Regions from separate parts of the Homo sapiens genome. Here all the other regions are linked to region 1. The links come from fine-mapping of genetic effects on gene expression. A gene starts in region 1. Each other region holds a variant in brackets. All regions are shown on one strand. Distances are between the middles of the regions.

Region 1 (5,105 bases):
CCATTAAAAGTAATAGCAAAAACTGTGATTACTTTTGCACCAACCTTATATCTAGAATAGCACCTCTCCCTCTACTCCTAGTCTCCTATTCCAGTGACTTATTTTTTCCCATCGCACTTGTATCTAAAATTATCTGATTGTATTTGCTTTGATGTATCTCCTCCCACTTGATTTTTCCTCTCTCTCTTGTTCACTGCTGTCTCTCAAACATTTAGAAGAGTGGCTGGCACTTTAAAAACAGATTGGGGGTACAAGTGCATTTTTGTTACACGGATGTATTGGGTGGTGGTGAAGTCTGGGCTTTTAGTGTAACCATCACCCAAATAGTGTACATTGTACCCAACAGGTAAGTCCTCATGGCTGGAGCTCTTAAGGTGATACTCAATAGTGCTTGTTGAAATAATGGATAGATCACATAATCTATAACATTATAGGGCAGAATGCACACTACGAGGAACCATGAGATATCTCAGTAAGTGAGTGTTAGAAAAGAACCTACAGGATTTAGGTTCATAATAGGTGATTTTGGTTGGGATTTAAGGAAGCAGAACTTTTTTTTTTTTCTACATTGGATATTGTCAGGAAGCAGGGACAATTCTATGATTAGAGATTCTTAATGAACCTCATCTCTAGGCAGGAAGACAAGAACAGGGCTAAAACCATAACTGGTAAAGCAGCAGCAGACAATCCTATCAGGCAGGATGGGGAGATGTTTGGTGTTTTGGGGGTTTGCACAATGACCTTGTTTTTGTCAGCACTTAGACAAGATTACCGAGTCACCTTGTTTTTTGTCTCATTTCATAGTTTATAGAGTGGCCTTGTGTGATATTGGTGTTCTATGCAACTGTGTTTAACAGGAGAATGCAAAGGCCCAGCTGTTGAGTGTCACAGCTTCTAGGCCAGTTTCTAGGTGTCAAGGTCCATTTTCTGTCTCTTACAAGTGTCCTAAGGCTGGAGTCTAGTGTCAGCACAGAAATAAGCAGGAGAATATCTTTCGGCTACTTGATAGTTCCCTTTTCCCCAGTTCTGGCTATGTATTAGGATGGACACTGAACCAAGACAGCACAGGCTGGTAGAGAAGCAGTACTTCTAGAAGTCAACTAAAAAATGCCTTTATTTATCCAAGAATTAATTATCCTCTCAGCACATGGCTACCACAGCTAATTTTCAAATGGAGAATGCTGTATATTTTGCATCCTGAATGATAGAACGCACCATTGCCTCAAAGGCCATGTTCAAAAACCTGCCAAGTCCTTGATTCTGGTTCATATTTTTATTTTTATGTAAACACAACAGTATGGTTTCAGGGAAGTCTGTTTTTTTTTTGTTTTGTTTTGTTTTTTTGAGACAGAATCTCGCTTTGTCACCCAGGCTTGAGTGCAGTGGTGCTATCTCGGCCCACTGCAACCTCCACCTCTCAGGTTCAAGTGATTCTCTTGCCTCAGCCTCTTAAGTAGCTGGGATTACAGGTGTATGCCACCACACCCAATTAATCTTTGTATTTTTAGTAGAGACAGGGTTTCACCATGTTAGGCTGGTCTCGAACTCCTGACCTCGTGATCCGCCCGTGTCAGCCTCCCAAAGTGCTAGTTTACAGGTGTAAGCTACCATGCCTGGCCTTAGGCAAGTCTTTTAACTAGCATCCCAGCATCCTCTGGGACTCTATGGCACCTGTATTCCTCTGTTAACATTCCTTCTATATTGTAATTAATTTATTTTAATCTATCTGCCTGGTTAGACTGTCTCCCACATATTTGTATCCCCGGAACTTAACAAAGGACTTGGCACAGGCTAGGCTCCCTACAAATATTAAGTGAATTTAAAATGGAGCTTTAATTCCTGGCTTGAAGTCACCTCACAAAACATTTAGTGAGTCTGTATTACAAGCCAGGAGGACGCTATGAAAAATCAGATAGTCTTTCCCTTTAAGGAATTTGTATTCATTTCTATTAGAGTTAATAATAATAATGATAATAGCTGATATTTACTAAAGATAGGGAACTTTGTTAGGTACTTTATATGTACCTGAGTTACTGTCATTTTATAGGTGAAACAAGGGATGTACCCAATGGGTTAAGTTACTTTCCTGAGGTCACGCAGCTATCACGGGGCAGAACGAAGACTTTAACTCAGACAGTCTGACTGCAGTAACGCTGGCCCAACTATCATGTTGAAACGTACAGCACCGTGCCCATCCACAGTTCTCTCATTTATCAGAGAGGAGGTCCTGAATCCAAGTTATTGAAATCGTTGCAGACATTTGTTTTAAAGAGGAATAGGTCAAGATGACCAATCTGGGGAAGAACTTTTGCCAGGCAGTGCGTATGGGGAACAGAGCTGCGTTGGCCTTCTGTTAAAGCAGCTGGGGATTTCGGTTTTGGCTTCAGACCTGCACAACATTCAGTCAATAGCATTTATTGGGCGTCCACTGTGCAGGGTGCCCCCTGCTACTTCCTCTCCTCCCCACATCCTGGGGCAGGGAGGGGAAGTGAGGAAAGAAAAGCAAAGACAAGGCGAGGAGGATGCTGAGGGTGGGCAGGTGGGCACCCCCACCCCGCTGCGCCGGCCACGCCCCTTGCCGCTCCCTCGCCCCGGGGCCCACTTTAAACTCCCGCCCCTCGTAATAACGACCAATGGCCGACCGCGAAGCGCGCAGGAGGCTGGGGATTGGCCAGTGCCGAGGTTGCTGGGGCGACGGGTGGGTCCGGCGGGTCCCCGGGCGGGGCGGGGCCGGGGCGAGGGGTGCCGGGTGGTTTCCGCCCGGCAGCCCGCAGCCCGCTGCGCCCCGGGCCGCGTCTCCCGGCGGTGGGAGGGGGCGGCCCCCACTCGGTTCCTGGCCCCTCGCGGCCCCGTCAGCCTCCCGCTCGGGGTGCGCCGCCCTTCGTCTGGGTCTCCGCCCCCAGGACCCGCGGCCGAGAGCTCCGGAGCGCGGCTTCCCCGGCCGGCTGCGCGATGGGCTGCGGGAACTCCACCGCCACCAGCGCGGGCGCGGGCCAAGGTGAGTCCGGCGGGAGGCGGGGGCCGGCGGGGGCGGGCGGGAGAGGCGGCGGGAAGGAAGGGTGCAGGGATCTTGGGTGGGGGGCGCGCAGCCCCCTCTCCCCGTCCCCATTTTCGGGACAGGAGCAGACCGCCCGTTTCTGGAAAGACCGAAAGCGTGGCAAGTCCCCCGCGCGGGGGCGGTTGCGCCTGGAGCAGTCGAGCCTGCGGGGCGTCTCTGCCGAGGGAGCGCGGGGAGGACTGTCGCGGGCTCCCCTGCAGCCGCCGGGGCTCACCTGCAGCTGGCGGGTCTCAGGGCTCTCCTGGGGGAGAGGATTCCCGGACGTGGTCCCCGGCCGCTCCCCCACCTCCCACACTTGCTCCTCCAGGCCTCTCCCCCATCTCCTCGGAACCAAGGCGCTGCACCTGGAAAAGTGCAGCAGAGCAAGACAGGACTTTTCGGGCAGTGGTGGTGGGGCAGGAAGCGGGGAAGGGTGGGAGTGGGGTTGGGGAGAACTAGAAGCAGAGCTGCAAAAACGCATCTGTGTCTGCCTTGATGCCGAAGACCGGCTGGGCTGCTCTTAGGATTTCTCTGAGAAGCTGCAGCAGTAAGGATGTTTTACATATGTGAGACAGAGCTTTATTATTAACAGTCTGTTAAGATACTTTTCATTAAACACACACACACACACACACACACACACACACAAATAGAAACTTCTTTTTATACCACTTCATGTTGATTGGCAGGCAAGGTCTTCTAGCTTCCCCGGGCCAGCCAGGCTTTGTGTCAAGTGACTTTTGCCAAAACTCACCCTTCTATTTCACCCTGCCTATGTCTCGGGATTTAAGGTACCCTGGATCTGTTTTGAGTAATAACTGCTGACCTATTTCAGTGTCCTTTTGGATAAAGAGCTCCTATCTCCTCCAATTGAAGTCAACCAGATGCCACATCCTAGCCTAACCAGCAAATGCAAACAGCAGTCAGAGGCTGCGGTATTTCCTAGGCGGCTGTGGAGGCCCTGGCAATGACTTTGTAACCTTGGGCCTGTCACATCCCTTAACCCAGACGCCGGTAAAAAATGGAGTTTAAGACTCAATTTGAGTCTTGAATTAAATCCTGTCCTGGTGACAATGCAGAGAGCCACAGGAGAGCGAACTTTTTAGATTCATTTAACAGTGGGGAAGGTTAGTGTAGCACCTTATGCTAATGAGGGCAGACGGGCTTCAAACCTGCCTGTGGCCAGAAAGCTCTGCTTGTATGAAACAATGTCAGGGCCACACCCCGCACTCAAATTGTGTCTCAGTCTACTAGGTACTGTGGCCGTATGCAATCCACTGCATGTGTAGCCTACTTAAAAAAGGTGAAGAAAAGTTATCCACATTAAAAAAAATTGTAGGAAGGATTTGTAGCAGATTTCCCTTAAAATGAGGCTAGTTTCATGCATGTACATTTTGATTTATTAATGAACTGCTTGTCAGTTTTAGGGATGGGGAGGGGGTACCATTGCCAAATGAAAATCAGAATGATGGACCAGGCGCAGTGACTCATGCCTGTGTAATCCCAGCACTTTGGGAGGCTGGGGTGGGTGGATCATCTGAGCTCAGGAACTCGAGACCAGTGTAACCAACATGGTGAAACCCAGTCTCTACTAAAAATACAAAATTAGCTGGGCGTGGTGGCGCCTGCTTGTAATCCCAGCTATTTGGGAGGCTGAGGCACGAGAATTGCTTGAACCTGGGAGGCGGAGGTTGCAGTGAGCTGAGATCGCACCATTGCACTCCAACCTGGGCAACAAGAGTGGAACTCCGCTCCATCTAAAAAAAAAAAAAAAGAAAAGAAAAGAAAATAGAAAGATGGTAAGGTATGATGAGCTAGCTCTAAAATGTTAATGTAAAAATCAAATTTGGGGGGAAAATATGATTTCTTGGGGAAATATGATTATCTTTATGAATATTTGATTGACTTTTTCCCTAGGAGCATCTCTCTTATCACCTAAAGGGAAGTCATATTGAAAAAAAAAAAAAAAGCTACCGAAAGAGTAGTTTGAGGAGCAGCCTCACTTTTGTTTGTGGACAGTGCATGTGAGAGCATGCTATTCTCTCCTCCAGCTTGCTGTTTGCCAAAA
Region 2 (5,105 bases), 26 kb after region 1:
GTATCTGATGGGCTCTTTTCTCATCCATGTAGTAGAAGGTAACGCTGTCTTCTGAGGGTGAAGAGGATGGGGTTGAAGTAGCATTGAAAAAGCCTGCATTTTGGAAGCAGAGGGACTTGTGTTTAAAATCCCCTTCACCATTTGCTAGCTGTGTTACATTGTGTCCTTAGTATAATTATCTGTGAAATTGGGATAATATAATAACTGTGCAGGGTGATCATCTTCATCATCATCATTCTTACAGTAGTAGCTAATCTTTACTGAGGACTGTGCACCATACACTGATTTCCAGCATTTTCTGTACGTTATCTCCTTCCATACCCATGATAATCTGATGGACAGAATAATGATGTTTCATTTTACAAGTGAGGAGGTGGGGAGCACAGAGAGCTGAAGTAGCTGCTGGAGGGACAGATTACAAATACAGTATATTTAATATCCTAGGAAAATACTTGGCATTATGCTTGTTGCCCCCGGTGAATGACAGCTAGAATTATTAGTTAGTTTAAAATGTTGTTGAAAAAATTTGGCAGGGCCTCTGACATGAATACTTGATGGCAGAAGACCCAGCATATTGAGGGCCTTGCTGTGGTTAGAAATCATATATTCCCATTGGTAGCCATGATGAGATTTTCCTTAGGTCGGACCCTGTGAAATAGGAGCAGGAAGAGAGAGAGCAGATGGACGGATTCATCCAGGGATGGAGAGGAATAGGTGGTGACCAGCAAGTGCTGCAGAAATACTTGACTGCAAGACATGTGCTAGGGAGAGAGGGAAGGGAAACACGAGGGGCTGATGGATAGGGAGGACGGGGAGGGATGGATGAACTGGAGCTGATGTTGCAATAAGAAAGCAGCCTTCTTGGGAATGATGGGACTATCGAAAGGAGGATTTTTTTTTCCTCCCTAGGGAGTGGGATTTTCTACTCTAAAATGTGGTAAAATAGTTCCAGGAACTATACTCCATGGAGCAGCCATCGGAGTATGTTAGCGGAGCAGCACAGAAGTTGTTGGGATAGAGGAAGTCAGCAAAATATGAGGTGAGAGGTTGGATGGGTGGTTTTCACGAATTTCTTTTTCTTTTTCTTTTTCTTTTTTTTTTTCAGAGTTTTGCTCTCTTGCCCAGGCTGGAGTGCAGTGGCACTATCTCAGCTCACTGCAACCTCTGCCTCCTGGGTTCAAGTGATTCTCCTGCCTCAGCCTCCCAAGTAGCTGGGATTACAAGCGCATGTCACCACGCCCAGCTGATTTTTGTGTTTTTAGTAGAGTTGGGATTTTGCCATATTGGCCAGGCTGGTCTCGAACTCCTGACCTTGTGATCCGCCCGCCTTGGCCTCCCAAAGTGCTAGGATTACAGGTGTGTGCCACTGCACGTGGCCATTTTCATGGAGTTTTAAATTGACCAAGATAATGGTGCTTAGAAAGAAAAACTTTGGGTCAGGGTCAAAATCTTTGGTGCTCTGGGGACAGTTATGGCAGGGTTTAGACTCCAGAGAGGAGAGGTTCTGAGTGAAAATGAAATGGCCCCACCTGTAAGAGCTCTGTGGGGAGATGAGGAGCATGCTGGCTCTGTCTCCTGTTAGGAGAAGCTAGGGTAGGTGAGAACAAGATGCATATTCTTGAGGTTTTGAGAAAAGTGGTGCCAGCAAGGAAAAGCCAAATTTCTTAAGGTAAGGAGATGAAGAGTGCACCCTTGCCTTATAGCAAATGATATTTTTACAACCAATTCTGAAATAATTCCTAACACTGTGTGCCCCTTAGTAAGAGAATAACTGGGGGGAGGAGAGCTAGAGAGGACAGGGAATTTGCAGTCTGGCTCTTGATCTCTTGCTTCTGGATAAAGAGAAGTTGAAAGCATTCCTTTGAAGTGAATGTTACTCATGTTCTCCAGTCATACACTCTGGAAGAAAGAAAGGGACTAATATTGGCCAATGGGCTCATCCAGGGAGAGAGATCAAAAGAAAACAGTCCAAAGAAGTTTTGAAATTGGAAAGAAATGAATGATATTAAACATAGGCCAAAACAGCCAATGGTAAAACATAATTCATTGTGTAATTAAGGGTTTGCTAGAATGGATTGAAACCACCCCAAGGAGCAGGAACCATCATGAAAACATGTTATAAAGAAAATTAAATAATTATATTTTATCTGGAGAATTGTAGTGTAGATGGAAGTAAACACAATCAATTAATAAACCTATTCCAGAAGGTTATCATGAATGGTAACTAGAAACAGATCAGGAGAGCCATGGTCTCCAGGGTTTCCATATTCAATTTTTACTGTTTACGAGTCAAAGTAAGTTTAGCCTCTTTAGTGACACTGCAAATAGGGAAAAAGAAAAGACTACAGGCTTTTTTTTTTTTTTTTTTTTTGCTTTTTAGATCATCTCTAATAAGAATAGCTGTATATTTAGAACATTTTTCTTGATGAATAAGTAAAAAATAAATCATTTCTTTGCCACATAACTTTGTTAGTTCTAGAAGCCTAAGGGAAGTGAGAACTTTCTGAATTTTCAGGTAAGTTGTAGCAAGGATGACTTGGGAGCTGCTGTTTCAAATGGCTGGCTGCTATCTCATATTTGTCATCTGTATTTGTCCTTGATCATGACATGGTTCCATTATTTCACTGTTAAAATCTTTAGGTCACTTGGGATAGCTATTTTATACAACCCAGAAACTAAGTAAATGTAATGATGAAAGATTTTGACTACCATATATTACTGAGGAAGAAAAAGATTCATATTTTATGTATTAACTTTGAATAAGGTTTCACTTAATGAAAGTGATAGTTATTGGTAAGATAAATCATAGTAATTTAAAATGAT[T/C]GTAAGGTTGAGGTGTTCCATGCAGATATTTGGTTTTAAATAGGCATGCAAAAAATACATTAATTTAAAAAAAGGCCAGGTAGGCGAAAGCCCACCCACCCCAAAGAGCAGCCACAGAGACATGGTCGTTTTGGAGGCAGCCCACCTTCCAGAACCCCGACCTACAAGAAGACAGAGCTTATTTATGATTAGAGAGACATTCAATGTCTCCAGTTCATTCAGAAAAAGTCTGTGACCCTAGTATAAAACAGAAGGATGCATAACTACCTAGAGAATCTGGATCAGCACTGCTATTCACCCTGAGAAGGGTAAGAAGAGCACCTGGCTGGTTTTAGTAAGTTCACAGGAAGTGAGCTAGAAGTGGAATTAATAGAAACTCTGAGACAGAGGAAACCCGAAGCCATCCATCTGTAATCTTAGTTGCAGTGGTTGCCTTTGGTCAGTTGCTTTTTTTTCTTTTCTTCTTTCTTTTTCTTGCATGCCGAGTGTCAAGCCAACTTTGATAAGGTACATATCACTAAACAGTATCTTACTCTACAAGAGTGAGTCATGTTTAAACCATCAACTGAGGATTTATCTTTTCAACAATCCCAAAAGACGTTGAAAGTGGGGAGAATATGAGTTACGGGGGTCACCTTGAATAACACTTGTTTCTGCAAACAGTTTTATTAATGCTATGACTGAAAGTCTGACTCAGAGCCCTGTAAGTGTGTGACCTTAGGCTAGGAGATGATTATGATACTCAACGGGTGGCTTGAACCTCGACTCATTCTTTCTCCTTGATCACCTGTTCTTTGATAAAAGAAGCTACATTTTTTTGCTAACAAAAGGAGACCTGATTTTAGTTGAATGCCCAATGTATTTTCTGTGTGTGTGTGTGTGTGTGTGTGTGTGTGAGAGAGAGAGAGAGAGAGAGAGGAGAGAGAGAGAGACAGACAGACAGACAGACAGACACAGGGTCTTGCTCTGTTGCCCAGGCTGGAGTGCAGTGGTGCGATCATGACTCACTGTAACCTCGACCTCCCAGGCTCAGGCAGTCTTCCCATTTCAGCCTCCTGAGTAGCTGGGACTACAGGTGCAAGCCAGCATGCTTGGCTATTTTATTTTGTATTTTTTGAAGAAACAGGGTCTCCCTTTGTTGCCCCAGCTGATCTTGAACTCCTGGGCTCAAGATATCTGTCTGCCTTGGCTGCCTGAATTGCTGAGATTACAGATGTGAGTCACTGCGCTGGGCTCAGTGTATTTTTTAAACCTGGTCCAAATTGGTGAATACATGTTCTATGGTTCTTAGGGAACGTTCCTGTGGTTTAAAAGGTTTTATAGCTGGGCATGGTGGCACGTGTTTGTAGTCCCAGCCACTCAGGAGGCTAAGGTGGGAGGATCACTTGAGCTGAGGAGTTCGAGACCAGTCTAGGCAACATAGTGAGACTCCATCTCTACAAAACCAAAAAACATATATGTTAGCCAGGTGCGGGGTGTGCGCCTGTGGTGCCAGCTGCTAGGGAGGCCGAGATGGGAGCATCGCTTGAGCCTGAGAGGTTGAGGCTACAGTGAGCTATGATTGTGCCACTGCTCTCCAGCCTAGGCTATGGAGCAAGACCCTGTCTCAGAAAAAAACCAAAACAATAATAATAAATAAATACAGGGTTTTCCTGATAAGATGGTATTTGAGGTTATGATTAAAAAATATTTCAGTCTTACATTTTTTCAAATGTTGCATTACTTTCCACAAATTTTTCAAATGGTATAGATGAGGAGAAACAAAACATTGTCTTGATACCAGAGAAAGCAATTTACCGATAGGTTTTCAGTCATGCTTACCCTGGAAAAACAAGCTTATTACACAAGTTTATTCTTTAGAGTAGTGGCTCGTGTGCAACTAGAAAATGGAATCACTGCTCAGTAAATTAATGTAAATCCTTTAGTACTGGCTTCCTCCAGCACTCTTTGGACTCCAGAAGTCAGTCTTCCTTCTAAGATTGGCTCTGGGCACAGCTGTAAAGCGGATGATGTTTCGACCAAACCCCAGCACTTGGTTCCAGTCCCTTCCCTTGGGTCTTCCTTCCCCTTTCACTTCTCTAATGGACTTAATGTCTAGCATAGCTCCCCTAGCAAGAGCAGGATTTGTCTTGATGTGCCACGTACTTATTTCCAGATTTCCCTTGATCCCTTGGTAATTTGGGCTAGTTTCTCTTCCCCTGCGTCGGCACCAACGTTTGACTCCATGGTTGTGAAATTGAAGAAGTCGTGATAAGCTTCAATGCTTGGGGCCAGGCCAGAAG
Region 3 (5,105 bases), 34 kb after region 1:
AGACCAACCACCGCTTTCTGATTTAACCTTAGTCTGGACCTGGTTGTCCAGATGAATAGATTCTAATGTAACTGCTCATCAGAACAACCTTTGTACCTGCATAAAAATGACTTATGTGGCAATTTGACAAGATCTGCGAAGATTGATGGTCCCTGGCAGCAGTTAGAGGTTGTTTCTCATGCTGATGAAACAGACTAGGACTCTTCTACAATCTTGTTTCTGACTTTTCTTGAGTGGGATGATAAAAATTGGAGAGCTCCTGGCCGGGCGCGGTGGCTCACGCCTGTAATCCCAGCACTTTGGGAGGCCGAGGCGGGCGGATCACGAGGTCAGGAGATCGAGACCATCCTGGCTAAAACGGTGAAACCCCGTCTCTACTAAAAATACAAAAAATTAGCCGGGCGTGTGGCGGGCGCCTGTAGTCCCAGCTACTTGGGAGGCTGAGGCAGGAGAATGGCGTGAACCCGGGAGGCGGAGCTTGCAGTGAGCCGAGATCCCGCCACTGCACTCCAGCCTGGGCGACAGAGCGAGACTCCGTCTCAAAAAAAAAAAAAAAAAAAAAAAAATTTGGAGAGCTCCTTTGGGAGGCTGAGGCGGGTGGATCATGAGGTCAGGAGATTGAGACCATCCTGGCTAACATGGTGAAACCTCCTGTCTACTAAAAATACAAAAAATTAGCCGGGTGTGGTGGCGGGTGCCTGTAGTCCCAGCTACTCAGGAGGCTGAGGCAGGAGAATGGCGTGAACCTGGGAGGCGGAGCTTGCAGTGAGCTGAGATCGCGCCACTGCACTCCAGCCTGGGTGACAGAGCAAGACTCCGTCTCAAAAAAAAAAAAAAAAAAATTGGAGAGCTCCAGCTGCGGGAAGGTGCATGTTTCTCTAATGCAAATTAGCATGGGCCTACAGTGTATGAAGCAGGAATTAGGATCACACAAATCTGGGTTTGAATTCTGGCTCTATGATTTAGCTTCGTAAGTTCGGTCATGCTACTCAGTTTTTTCATTTTTAAAATGTGAGTAGTACTGGTCTTGCAAGATTGTATAAGGATTAAATGAACTAATATAATAGGATTAGCAAAGTGCCTAGTATAGTTACACAATCAGGTTGAGAGATGGGATGATGGTCAAAGCTTTTGCAAAAGCAGTATGGAGGTGAATCGCCCACTTTAGGAGAAGCCACTACGTTGGTCTTTCACAGGAAGTGTTTTTGACTTTTACATCTTTCTACCTGAGAAGCAGAGTGGTGAATGAGAATGGAGCATGGCTTTGGTGCCAGATGGATGGGGTATGGATGTTGGTCATGCTTGTTAGTCTTGTATGTTTATGAATTACATGGCTTTCTGCACCTGGTTCCTCAGGCCTAGGCCCTCAGAGCTGTTGTGAGGAATAGCATGGATGCACGTGCAGTGTCCTGCACTGTGCCTGACACACAGGAGAGACTCATGAATGACACCATTATACCCACGGAGTCCTGGTCTCTAGTCCTAGTGTTGTAGAATAACTGTTTGTGGAAGGAATGGATGAAGTGACAGTCTTATACATGGGAGTGAGTATGCAAAGACAGGCTTTACAACTTACTGGAAGGTTTAAAAGAGTGGATATCTGGCCGGGCGGGGTGGCTCAGCCTGTAATCCCAGCACTTTGGGAGGCCGAGGTGGGAGGATCACGAGGTCAGGAGATCAAGACCATCCTGGCCAACATGTTGAAACCTCGTCTCTACTAAAAATACAAAAATTAGCTGAGCATGGTGGCACGGGCCTGGAATCCCAGCTACTCGGGAGGCTGAGGCAGGAGAATCACTTGAACCAGGGAGTCAGAGGTTGCAGGGAGCCGAGATTGTGCCACTGCACTCCAGGCTGGTGACAGAGCAAGACTCTGTCTTAATTAAAAAAAAAAAAAAGAGTGGACATCTTATAAGTCTTTATAGGTAGTATTTTTTTTAAGATTTGGCATTATATCTGAAGCTTAATTTATTATCCAATAAATATGGCAACTACATTATCATTTCCTGCCAGTTATACATGTAAGGTTGTTGATTAATTTTATAATGGAGAACACAGATTGAGTTTTAAGATATTGAGTAATTTAACAGGAGAAAGTAAATGACTATTTTCTTACATTTGGGAAAGTGAAAATATATTTTAAAACCTTGAATATATCCTTAAGCACAGTTAAGCAAAAGGGGAAAGAATTAAAATAAACGGATATGTAAATGGATGTGAAAAGAATAGTCATGGCCGGAAATGTGTGTCATAAGCTACCAGTTATATACAGATTCAAGTGATTTCTTGAGAAAGTTAATCACTCAGGACCAAAGTAAACAGTTCTTATCAGAACTTACCTTGAACGAGTTTGTCCTCATCATTTCTCCATTATCTATGCTAAAGGATTATAAATCCATTTTAATTAAAAGTAGTGAACAACTCTCTCTTATACCACATCAATAAGCATAACACCATTAGTATGACTTTGACACTTGAACTAAAAAAACAATCCAGCGTTAAGAGGTAAATGAAGCTGATAACCATCTAGTGAATTTAGGTTATATGCTCAGTTTGGATGAATTAGGTCTCAAGATGGATTTTGCACTCTCTTCCAGTATTAGCTGTTCATGGCCAGC[G/A]TTCACCAGATAATTATTAAATCTACACTTTCCTTCTTTATAGACTTGGACTTACTGGCTGTTGCAATAAAGCAAAAATCTCATGCACATATACAGTCACATTTGAAATATTCACAGCTTTTAAGTGGGTAAAATCATAGTTAGACAATCTCTGAATCAGAAGAGTCAATGACATTTAGATGTTTGCAGTCTGCTTTTTGCTCAACTGAAGCCCCTTAGTGTTACAAGTTGAATTCAGCCAGATACATTGGAATCTTGTTGAATTATTTTTTTTTTCTTTCAGAAAAGCAACTTATGTATGCCAACTAGTGCTTCAAGGAAAGTGTCCTGATTCTCTTAGAAATACGCCAAGGAATTCTGGTAGAATATGGACTCCTTTTTTTTTTTTTTTTTTTTTTGAGACCAAGTATCCCTCTGTTGCCCAAGCTGGAGTGTAATGGCGTGATCTCTGCTCACTGCAACCTCCACCTCCCGGGTTCAAGGATTCCTGTGCCTCAGCCTCTTGAGTAGCTGGGACTACAGGCGTCACCATGCCTGGCTAATTTTTGTATTTTTAGTAGAGATGGGGTTTCAGCATGTTGGCCAAGCTGGTCTCGAACTCCTGACCTCAGGTGATCCGCCCGCCTCGGCCTCCCAAAGTGCTGGTATTACAGGCATGAGCCACCATGTCCAGCTTGGATTCCTCTTAATGCAAGGAGAGAAGCTGTGCATTTTAAAGTAGTGATCCCCTCTAAATGTATCCTTTTAAATATTTCTCCCTCTCTTTGCAGTAGATCATGTATGAAATGGCTCATGTTTTTAGATAAAAAAAAATCAAATAGGCATTAACTCTTTTTGCACTGAAGAAGTCTTTCAGTACCTATAGTTGTGCCACTGAAGTGTCATAAGAGATCTAAAACCATGTATTAGGACTGGAAGAGACCTGAGGGGTCATCTGGTCAACCAGCTTATTTTACAAATGAGACACAGGCTGGCAGCTCGCCCACAGCCTGTCTGTCACACAGGGAGTGGGTGGTACACACAAGACGATAACTCAGGCTTCTTTCCAATTTCAGCTGCCCTCAGTTTTCCATTTCATTTGGCAGTTGTGCATTTTGGCATTTGCTGGATTCACACATTTTGGTTTGTAGAAAATTACCAAGTTTTAACGTATGAATGATTGAGGTGAAGGCAGAATATTGTCACAGAAACACTTGATGGATAGTTTTGCTCCTCTACTTAAGTCTGATGGAAACATTTGAAATAAAATTGACTTCAACTCAGTAGTCCCTTTTTCTCATAACCAAAAATGAAGTCCCCGACTATGTAACCAAGTGTCTCATAGCAAATGTTTCTGACCTTTTAGAACAGAAGAATCCGTAACAGAAGATGACAAGAGGAGGTATGTTTGGTATTGCAGCTGGCTTTAGTTTGAATGGTTTTGGCCATACCTCATGGATTTAACACACTGTAGCATATTCCCAATAACACAGATTCTGCCAGGAAAACTGTTGGCACAGAGAATACAGGTAGGGGCATATGGTCTGAAAAAGAACTTGCCCAGGATTCATCATCTTTGCTCCTTCCAAGCAAACTTGGTTTTTGTCCTATGCATGTGGCGTGTGCTAATTTTCATCCTATGACCTTTGGGTGTGCTCTTCTCCCTAACTGGATGACTTCCCTTCATTCTCTCAGCCTTCCCTGTCCTCCTACTTCTCTGATTAACTGCACTCCACCCTCATTTCTCTCTTGCTGTCTCTGCCCTCATTTTGTATCTCTCTATTAGTAAGATATCTTTGTGTGTCCATAATGCCTAATATCATACCATGTTGACCACTCTGAATTATTGATAAATGTTAACTGTAACATGTCACTGTATGATATTTAATACTCTAATAAATTGTAACATCCCAAAGTCTTTTCTTCTTTCTCATTACAAGTAAAATATCTAAAAATTCTACTAACGCAATACATCTTTCTTTTTTTTAAAAAAAATAGCTTCTTTTTAACCTAGGAAACCAATTATATTCCCAAGGGCCATAATATTCTAGATTCTACTTTTGAAAAATCATGAGTTATTTTAATAATTATATAATTGTTTGGAGTACTCCGTGCTTCTGTTGCTTCCTGTAAATAGATAGTACCATTTAAATTGGTTTGATTTCTTTTTATCAAGAAACTATGGAGGAGTATATGTTGGCCTACCATCTGAAGCTGTCAATATGGTGTCCAGTCAAACAAAGACGGTTCGGAAAAGTAAGTGAAATCATGTGCTGTTGATTTTCCCTAATTATTTATTTTTATGTTTTATGAAAAAGCATGAAATTTATATTTCAGCTTACTCGACTCAACCTATGTATTGGTTGCAGTGAACCATGTATAAGTACTGTCTGTTCATTGCAGTCATTGGTTGAAATAGCCACCCACATGGTAAGAAGAATTCCAGAGCATAATTTAGCTTTTATTTGTGGTTATGCTCCATATTTTTAATTTCTTGTTAATTTTAGC
Region 4 (5,105 bases), 48 kb before region 1:
ATAGCCCTTATCTGTAATTAAGTTATTAGATTTTTCTGTGCATCTCCGCCATACTACAAGCCAACCACCACTAAAAATCCATGGGTTGGAAATAGGTAGAGCGATCCAAGGGTGTGCTCTACCTAAGATTTCCAACCCATGGGCTCAGCTCCTAAGTCAGTGCTCACCAAGCCTGATAGCACATAAAATGCGCCCATTTGCACAGCAAGTAGAGAACAGAATTTCTGCCGTTCCCCCAAATGAGCATTTATTAAGCCTGAGTGACTCCCTGGGCACCACTGGAACTATCCAACTCTAGCCTTCCAATCACCCACCCTGTGTGTCTGGCCTGACTGGCAGAGGTAAGTCATGACTTGTGTGGCTGAACTCGCACTAGCCTTTTCTCTCGGGGGTTGAACTATGTTCTTGTCTATGTCCAGTGGCTAGAATTTTCCTTCATCCCTGGGGAAGTTTCTCCTGGAACCAAAGTAATGCCACCCACCTTGTAATGCATCTTGTTGCTGCCTAAGGACTACTGTGGCCACATCCCACCTCTGGGGACTGACCATTCTGATCAGTGGGTCAACCTTTTGTGTGTCACAGAAGCACTTAAGAATCTGATGAAGGTTAAGAAGAACTCTTTACTGATATATGTATCATTTAAGCAAATATCCTGGAATTTTGCAAACAAATTTAAGGACTTACAGATTTCCCTGAACTTTTTTTGCAAAACTACTCATTTTTGTAACCAGTATAGAATCTTGTATGGGGCACTTAGTAAATGTTTGTTGAATTGAACTGCATGAACTAAATCTCAATTCAGCAATCCTAAATGCAGAAACAATTACACACACACACACACACACACACACACACACACTAGTTATTTGTTTTGCTCCAGAAAAGGACTTAAAGTGGTTAATATTTAGACATTTGCTTCTTTAAAACATCTTCATAAGTATCGAGACTCAGTAGAGACAAATTCCTTTTCCACTTAATTTAACAAAGACTCAGAATTTTTTTTTAAAGAAATAGTATCAGAATACAAAATGAAAAAAGCAAATCGCCCAAAACCAGTTAAAGGACATAAAACTGAATTCTTGTAGTTTGCATATTTCTTATCAGAGTGGTTCTTAGTCCCCTCCCTCCTCCCAAATTCAACAAAGCCATTGTTAACAGTGACTCAGACTACATTGATTCCAATGAGGGTTGGCTGTGGGCCACACTTTTACTTGGGGATCACGGCAAACTTTCTGGGGAGAGGCCATAGTTTAGAGGAAGGCCTCCAGGGGATTCTGATATCTCTGCCTTTTGGTATCCCCACTCTCATTAGTGTCCTAGGATAACAAGTGCTACTCAATCATTAACTCAGTTTGGCTTATTGGGCACAGAACCTTCTGTTCCTCTGTTGATCTGGTTAGGAGAGCAGGCTTTAAACCGTCTGAATTTGAATTTTGGGTCTATCACTTGACCTCTCTGTGCCTTAGCTCCACTGATATCACCTGCCAAAAGCCCTCTTTGGTGCTAACAGAACACAGATCTGTTCTGATATTAGTGTGATGTCCCTTGACCTCGGGTATTCCTATACCCTATCCCAGCCCCAGGATATGAATCATGATTGGTCAAAAATACTCATAGAAATCTTATTCCTTTTGGTCAGCGATTAGTCTAAAGGTGGGCTTGCAACCCAGGTATGACCAGAGAGATGGAAAGGCGAGTCAGCTGAGGTAAGTCGGGAACATAATCCATACCAAATATAAGGCAGATCCTTAGGAGGAGAAAATCCTTCCTTGTTCTTCCTGCCTAGATGCAGACATGATCCTGGAGGGGCAGCAACCACCTTGTGGCTTGGAAAGGAAAGTCAACATGCTAAGAAGGCAGGAAGGGAAAACAGAAGGAGCCTGGTAGTTGTTTGTTGTTGCTGTTTGTTTTAGAGTCCAGTAGTTTAATTGTATAGTGCAGTTTCTGCATCAGCTCTGGACTTTGGACTCCTTATTCAGTGAGAAAAATAA[G/A]CAATTCATTTGTCAAGCCCCAGTAAATTTTGTTATGTACAACTGAATGCATTCTTATCTGATATACTCAGTTTATAATTTATAAAGTGAGGATAAAAACAGTACCAATCAGAAAGGAAGTAAAATTACCCTTGTTCACAGAGGACATAATCTTATATCTAGAAAACCGTAAAGATTTCATTTAAGAAATCCAAAGTGTTGAACTAATGAATGAATTCAGCATAGTTGCAAGATACAAAGTCAATGCACAAAAAAAATTCTGTTTCTTTATACCAACGGTGAAATTAAGAAAACAATTTCCTTTTTAATAGCATAAAAAAGAATACAATACTTAAGAATAAACTTAACTAATGAGGAGAAAGGCTTGTACATAAGTATCAAACATTGCTGAAAAAAGCTAAAGAAGGCTTGGCTAAATAGAAAGTCATCCATGTTCATGGGTGATTATTGTTAAGATGGCAGTACCATCTAAAGCAATCTATAGATTCAATGCAGCTTCTATAAAATTTCAATGATACTTTTGGCAGAAATAGAAAAGCCCATCCTAAAATTCATATGGAATGTCAACGGACGCCAAATACACAAAACAATCTTGAAAAAGAACAAATATGGAGGGCTCCCACTTCCTGATTTTAAAACTTACTACAAGGCAACAATAATCAATAGTAGATTACTGACATAAAGACAGTGAAATAGAATAGGAAGTCCAGAAATAATTTCTTGCTTGTATGGCCAAATAATTTTTTTTTTTTTTTTGAGACGTAGTCTCACTCTGTGGCCCAGGCTGGAGTCCAGTGGCGCGATCTCGGCTCACTGCAAGCTCCGCCTCCCGGGTTAATGCCATTCTCCTGCCTCAGCCTCCTGAGTAGCTGGGACTACCGGCACCTACCACCATGCCCAGCTAATTTTTTTGTATTTTTAGTAGAGACGGGGTTTCACCGTGTTAGCCAGGATGGTTTCGATCTCCTGACCTCGTGATCCGCCCGCCTCGGCCTCCCAAAGTGCTGGGATTACAGGCGTGAGCCACCATGACCGGCCATGGCCAAATAATTTTTGACAAGGGTGCTAAGATAATTCAATGGGGGAAAGAGCAGATTTCAAAAAATTGTGCTGGGAAAACCAGACATCCACATGCAAAAGAAGGAAGTTGAATCCTTATCTAAGATCATACACAAAAATCAACTCAAAATGAATGAAAGACCTAAATGTAGGACCCCAAACTAATAAATTCCTAGGAGAAAACATAGGGAAAAAACCTCATGACATGGATTGGATAATGATTTTTTGCATATTACATCAAAAGCACAGGTAGCAAAAGAAGAAATAGTTTTTCATCAAAATAGAAAACTTGTACAACAGCAAACGATATTATCACAGAGTGAAAAAGGCAACCCATCGAGTGGGAGAAAATAATAGCAAATCATGTATCTGGTGAGGGGTTAAAATCCAGAATATATAAAGAGCTCCTACATCTCAACAACACAAACAACTCAATTAAAAAATGGACCTTAATTACTTTAATGTACTGTAATTAATTTACTTAATTGGAGGACTTGAATAGACATTTCTCCAAGGAAGATGCACAGATAGCCAATAAGCACAGAGAGATTCATCACTAATCCTTAGGAAAATGCAAATCAAAACCACAATGAGATGCCACTATAAGGTTAATGCTAAACCATTGGCAGTACCCAGAAGGAGAAGTTAAGGAGTCTAATCTCTCCTCTGGCTGCTGTGTGGAGGATGGACTGTGTAAGGGTAAGAGTGGAGGCAGGGGAACTCGTTGGGAGATTGCTGCAAAGATGAGGCCAGACATCATGGTTTCAACTTGGGTGATGAGATGTAGGGTTGTGGTTCTATTTTGGAGGTTGAGTCAGCAACATACATGGCTGGACTCGATGCAAGATTTTAGGGTGAGGGAAAAATCAGAATAAGCTCTAAGTTTTGTACCTGAGCAATTGAGAATATGACAGTGCAATTTACCAAAAAGAGGAAGGTTTAGTGAGGAAGCAGGTAAGGGGCTGACTGGTAGGGGAGAGAGAGGAGTAGAAAAGTAGATAGCTTTGTTTTGGTTCTACAAAATTCGGATGCCTACTGGACTTCCAAGTTGATATATGATTCTGGAATTGGGGGGTTGGGAATTGAGTATCATAAATATAGAGATGGTACTTGAAGTCAAGGGAGAGAATGTAGAGAAGAGACAGGGCCAAGGATAGAAATTTGAGCTACCTAAAAGATAGAAGCCTTACAGAAAGGAAGAACAAAATAAAAAGGCTGAGAAAGAGTGGCCACTGAGTTAAGAGAAAGTCCAGGTGAGTGATCTTACAAAGGCTCAGAAAAGACTTTCAAGAGTGACAGCATGGTCAACTGTTGCTGAGAGGTTAACTAAAAGGTAATGAAAAAGGAACTAGGCTTTGGCTAGATGTAGAGTATCTACATCTTGATAATGACCTTGATAATGGAGAAGTGGTAGAGATAATAACCCAACTGGACTAAATTGAATACAGAATGGGAAGTAGGAAAGTGAGGATATCAAATATGGACATGTCTATATAGGAACTTCGCTGAGAAGAACTTTGTGGTTGATTGGATGTGGTGGGTGAAGCAGAGAGAGAGACCAAAAATCTCTCCCACAGTTTTGATCTGTGCAACTGAGTGGATTGGAGGTGCCAGTCACAGAAGCTGGGTTGTTGGGTTGTTGGTTCAGGATGCTGGGAGGCTGGGGAGTTGAGAGGGATGGGTGCCTTCAGCTCCACATCTACCCAGGGCTCTTTGGAATTTTTGTGAAATGATGGAATCCTTCCTTCTTTCTGGGGTAAGGCACATGGTCATTAATTAACAAAGATTAATTTCACAAAAAACATGTAAAAGCCCAACAATTTACACATGGGTTTTAATTTGGGTGCGTTTTTAAAATGCAAAACAGCAAAAGGCAAACATGAGCTCTTAAATCCCTCTGCTGTACTACTTCTGAGATTGAGAAATCACTTCTTAATTATTAAGAAATACTCTCTAACACAAGCAATTTTCTTTTAATTTTCTTTAAAAAACAGCAATCAGCATACACTGCTTTCAGTTGTTCAAATGAATTAGCCTCAATTTATAGACTCAGTA
Region 5 (5,105 bases), 43 kb after region 1:
ATAAACTCAAATTTGCATGCCATATGCACATTTTGATTACATTTTTATTTTCTTTCGTGAAAGGCATGTGCAACTACAAATACTTCATAGCTGTTTGGGTTGCTCATTCTACATCACGACAATCTCATCATATTATTTCTATAACTTTTCAAGGACTTGCGATGGATGGTTAGTGGGATATCTGGAAATTAATTTGATAATGACTTGTGTATCTACTTAGTATTGCAATGTAAGTTACTCAATTCACCAATGTATTTCAACAATTAAAACATTTTTATCCCTCTTCACTTACATTTCTTAATTATTTTTCAAAAGAACACTTAAAGTCACACATGGCATTGTGATGTATAGATACATTATATAAACATATGAAGATAATAATATATAAGTAGATTACTAAGAAAAACCAAAGTTTTTCATAGGAAGAAAGGCATTATCTTATATATTTGGTCTGTATGACAACCACAGGGACATCAAATTGATAAAAAATTTCAAAGCTAAGAATTACTAAGAAATTATCCTGATACACACATTCCTGTCTCATGTTCATAAGTCCATAATGGTATTTAGGTGGAATATCAGCAGTTTGTCCTATTAGGAATAACAGATAGATTGACTTTTTTTTTTTTTTTGGTGATGGAGTCTTGCTCTGTCTCCCAGGCTGGAGTGCAATGGCATGATCTCGGCTCACTGCAACCTCTGCCTCCTGGGTTCAAGCGATTCTCCTGCCTTAGCCTGCCAGGTAGCTGGGACTACAGGTGTGCACCACCACGCCTGACTAATTTTTTGTAATTTTAGTAGACACGGGGTTTCACCATGTTGGCCAGGCTGGTCTTGAACTCCTGACCTCAGGTGATTCACCTGCCTTGGCCTCCCAAAGTGCTGGGATTATAGGTGTGAGCCACTGCACCTGGCCAGATTGACTTTTAAAAAACTTTTAATTTTGAAAAAATTTTAGATCCATAGAAGCACATAAAGATTATATGAAGAGTTCCTGTATGCGCTTAACCCAGCTACTTCTGATGTTAATCTTGCATGACCACAGTACATTTGTCAGAAGAAATTAAACATAGGTACAATGTGATAAACTACAGCCTTTAATTAGATTACATCAGTTTTTCTACTAATGTCCTTTTTGTTTGTTTCAGGATCAAATCCAAGATTCCATTGCATTCTGTTGCACTTGATCATCCTGTTTCCTTATTCTCCATTTGTCTCCTTAGTCTCCCCTTCCTGGTACTTTCTTCGTCTTTCCTTGTTTTTCATGACCTTGACACTTTTTTAGCCTACTGATTACATATTTTGTAGTGCATTTAATTTGAATTTGTCTGTTCTCTTATGATTGGACTGGGGTTGTAGATTTTTAGGAAGAGATATTAGCTGGGTGTGGTGGCACACACCTATAGTCCCAGCTACTCAGGAGGCTGAGGTGGGAGGATTGCGTGAGCCCCGGAGTTTGAGATTGCAGTGAGCTGTGATCGCACCACTGCACTCCATCCTGGGCCACAGAACAAGACCCTGTCTCTGGAACAGAGATTGGTGGGAAGAGGACCACAGAGGTAAAGTGGCCCCCTCATTAGAGCATATCATTATATCTCATGATCTCAACATGACTTATTACTGCTGATATTGACCTTCATCACTTGACTAGGTGATATCTGGCAGCTTTCTCTTTGATAAAGTTTCAAGTTTTTTATTTATTTATTTATTTTTTTTTTTGGAGATGGGCTTGCTGTGTTGCCCAGGCTGGAGTGCAGTGGCACGATCACAGCTCACTGCAGCCTCAAACTCCTTGACTTAGGTGATCCTCTCGCCTCAGCCTTCTGAGTAGCTGGGACTAGAGGTGCATGCCACCACACCCAGCTAATTAAAATTTTTTTTGTAGAGGTGGGGTTTCGCTCTGTTGCCCAGGCTATTATTGAACTCCTGGCCTCAAACAATCCTCCTGCCTTGGCTTCCCAAAGTGCTAGGATTACAGGTGTGAGCTACAGCACCTGGCCTCTAGTTTTCCGTTTTCATCCCCTGCTCCTTATAAGTGATAAATGAACCACTAAGTTGAGACCACACTCAAGGACAGGGGAATCAAGCTTCACCTCCTGGAGAAAAGAGTATCAAGGAATTTTTGGACTCTTAAAGGCACCACGGTAATTAATAAGTAATTTGGAGAAGATAGTTTGAGACTCTGCAAATACCCTGTTTCTCCTTAGAGTTTTGCCCACTAATTTTCAGGTTCATCCTTGGCTGTTGTCTGCAGCATCTGTTATGTGGCATAAAAATGTGACTTTCTATTTCCCTCGTTCCTCTACCTGTATTATTTGGAATTCTTCTCTAAGGAACATTTGTCCATTTTTCCCCCATTTACTTATTCAGTCATTCATTTTCATCAGTATGGGCTTTTGGATATTTATTTTGTCTTTTAGGTTATAATCCAATACTCTTGCTATTTTGTTGCTCAAATTGTTCCAGCTTTGGCTTCTGGGAGCTTTTTCAGGTTGGCTCTGACATGCTCCATCCTGCCCCCCACCTCCACTGCCTCCACCTTTGGTTGATTTTTAGTAACAAACAGGCCTCTAAAATAAAAATCCAATTCAAAAGTTTGTTTAAAACACATTCCTAAAACTTCATCACTTTTCATCATAACTGGATAGTAATTTCCATATTGTGATAAGTCTTGGCATTTTTCTTCAACTAGACATTTTTAAAATTTAGAACCTTGTGATTCTTACTTGCCACCCACTTAA[C/G]CTATATCTTAAAGCTAATGACTATAATTTTTAATAAGTACTGCAAGAAACTTGAGTGAAGAACTCAGAGAAGAATAAATAACATTAAAACATTTCAGAAGAAAAAGAGATGGGTAAAGCCTTAAAAATGCCTGATATTTAAGAGTTAATGCCTTTTCAAACAATATATGGTTTCTTCGCAAGATTATTATTGAAAAATACAATGAAGAGATGAGTTTCTGAGATTTTCTGATTGATAAGATTGTCTGAATAAAAAAGGTTTTCTTAAGAAACCTTCTAAGCTAGAAGGCACTCATTGCTAGACTCAGTTAAAGAAGACAGCTATAATTTAGTTTTGGAGACCTGCTTGGAACTCTGGAATGTAGAAAACTCTGGTTTTGACAAGTACAGCTGACTTCTGGGGTGCTATTGAAGAATGCTGGCCTGTTGGAAAGTGATCTGGACTAGGCTCTGGGGAGAGAGGCAAAATGATAGAAGGCACTAAGTTAATACAGTGGGGAGTTGCCTTTCTGGTTTTTTGAATTGTTAAAAGAGTTTGAAGAGGAAGAGAAAACAGGCTTAGTTTTGCAAATGGGAGCTAGTGTATCTGTACTGTATCCATGCCCAAGGGTGGGAAGAATTTCTGGTGTGGAAAAGTTATGTAAGGAACTCATTCCCAGGAAGATCGTTTGCATTTACTTATTTACATATACTTGATGCACCTGATCAATTCAAGCAGTACAGAAGGATGAGGTGCTTTTCGTAGATTTTGTCCCAGTACCCAGTTCTGATTTTCCGTTGTTTCTCAACCATCACCAGTTGAGTTCTTGCTGTGCCCCTGATGGGCAATGGTTACTGGGGTACAGCTGAAAGACCCGATCCATGCACTCAAGGCTCTTCACATGAGTGGTGGATACTCTGGGTAGCCTGTAAGGAACATCTAGAGCAGTGGCCGGGGCTGGTAGAGATTGCTTCGGGACCACAGAGCAGGGACGCCTAAGTCAGGATGGTGGACGAAGGAAGACTTCCCAGAGGGCAGTCCCTGGTGCAGAGCCATAGGGAAGGTGTGAGTTTGCCAGCATAGATCAAGGAAGAAAGCAGCTTCAGGCTGAGAACCACAGGTGCAGAGACACCTGGAACGCTCTTGGCATAACCTGGGAAATGCTAGGAGTTGAGCCTGGCTGGGTGGAAGGTGATGGTAATGGGATGGGAGAGGCAGGCAAGGTGAGCTTGCGTGGAGCCTGGAGGGTCACCTTTGAACTTCTGAAGCCTGTGAGAAGCCACTGGGGAATGAAGCTGTCATGGAGCTTAGGTGCTTAAGGGCCGTCATGACTGGTCTTAGTTTCCCCTCCAGTGCCTGGTTTGTGGGTCTGTCTCTCTAGTAGGCATGATAAGTACTTGCAGTACTTTCCATGTCTTATGAAGGTGTAGCTTTCCCATTTAATCTATAATATTATATAAACTACTTGGAATTTTCAGGTGCATCATGTCGGGGTAGATGTAGCCAGGCAATGAGTGTGTCAGGAACATTCCATTAGGGCAGGGCCATGCCTATCCCAGCAGCAGGTATAATCATCAGCTGCTTGGTTTAGGTTTGTGACAATGTTGGGGTTATCTTGTTGCTTCACGTATTTCTCCCATGTCTTTTTTTTTTTTTTTTTTTTTTGAGGTGGAGTCTCATTCTGTTGCCCAGGCTGGAGTGCAGTGGTGTGATCTCGGCTCACTGCAACCTCCACCTCCTGGGTTCAAGCAGTCCTCCCACCTCAGCCTCCCAGGTAGCTAGGATTACAGGCGTGCACCACCATGCCCAGCTAATTTTTTTATTTTTATTTTTAGTAGAGAGACGGGGTTTCACCATGTTGGCCAGGCTGGTCTCGAACTCCTGACCTCAAGCAATCCACCCACCTTGGCTTCCCAGGTAGCTGGGATCACAGGTGTACATCACCGTTCTCGGCTTCTTATGTCTTTTTTCACAAAACTATTCCATTAAGACAAATTTCTGGCTGGGTGTGGTGGCTCACGCCTATAATCCCAGCACTTTGGGAGACCAAGGCGGGCAGATCACGAGGTCAGGAGTTCGAGACCAGCCTGGCTAACATGGCAAAACCCTGTCTCTACTAAAAATAAAAAAAATTAGCCAGGTGTGGTGGCAAGTGCCTGTAGTCCCAGCTACTCGGGAGGCTGAGGCAGGAGAATCACTTGAACCCGGGAGGCCCGGGGTTGCAGTGAGCCGAGACTGTGCCATTGCACTCCAGCCTGGGTGACAGAGTGAGACTCTAGCTCAAAAAAAGAAAAAAAAAAAAAAAAAAGACAAATTTCTTTCTCCATTAGTGAAGTCTCTGACACTTAGATAATGTAGTACTCAATTATATAATTTGCTTCTTC

What was found.
Region 2: its variant is fine-mapped to the expression of C12orf75 in whole blood (INTERVAL, PIP above 0.99).
Region 3: its variant is fine-mapped to the expression of C12orf75 in whole blood (INTERVAL, PIP 0.98).
Region 4: its variant is fine-mapped to the expression of C12orf75 in pancreas (GTEx, PIP above 0.99).
Region 5: its variant is fine-mapped to the expression of C12orf75 in whole blood (INTERVAL, PIP above 0.99).

What each region holds. Positions count from the first base shown.
Region 1 is chr12:105,327,940-105,333,044 of GRCh38, forward strand. C12orf75 (chromosome 12 open reading frame 75) reads left to right here and starts at 2,752. Exons shown (of 6, transcript NM_001145199.2): 1 at 2,752-2,998. The coding sequence starts at 2,953. RefSeq lists silencers at 2,388-3,047, 3,078-3,177 and an enhancer at 3,834-4,377.
Region 2 is chr12:105,354,090-105,359,194 of GRCh38, forward strand. The region is part of intron 2 of C12orf75 (chromosome 12 open reading frame 75); the gene reads left to right. Among named protein-coding and RNA genes, the nearest start is that of C12orf75, 26 kb to the left of the region's middle. RefSeq lists a silencer at 3,547-3,616. The variant T/C (reference allele first, on the strand shown) is at 2,824.
Region 3 is chr12:105,361,844-105,366,948 of GRCh38, forward strand. It overlaps C12orf75 (chromosome 12 open reading frame 75), which reads left to right. Exons shown (of 6, transcript NM_001145199.2): 3 at 3,964-3,999; 4 at 4,774-4,853. Among named protein-coding and RNA genes, the nearest start is that of C12orf75, 34 kb to the left of the region's middle. The variant G/A (reference allele first, on the strand shown) is at 2,619.
Region 4 is chr12:105,279,983-105,285,087 of GRCh38, forward strand. No RefSeq gene overlaps it. Among named protein-coding and RNA genes, the nearest start is that of C12orf75-AS1, 44 kb to the right of the region's middle. The variant G/A (reference allele first, on the strand shown) is at 1,992.
Region 5 is chr12:105,371,232-105,376,336 of GRCh38, forward strand. It overlaps C12orf75 (chromosome 12 open reading frame 75), which reads left to right. Exons shown (of 6, transcript NM_001145199.2): 6 at 1-287. It overlaps LOC105369957 (a long non-coding RNA gene), which reads left to right and starts at 883. Exons shown (of 3, transcript XR_945302.3): 1 at 883-1,236. The variant C/G (reference allele first, on the strand shown) is at 2,742.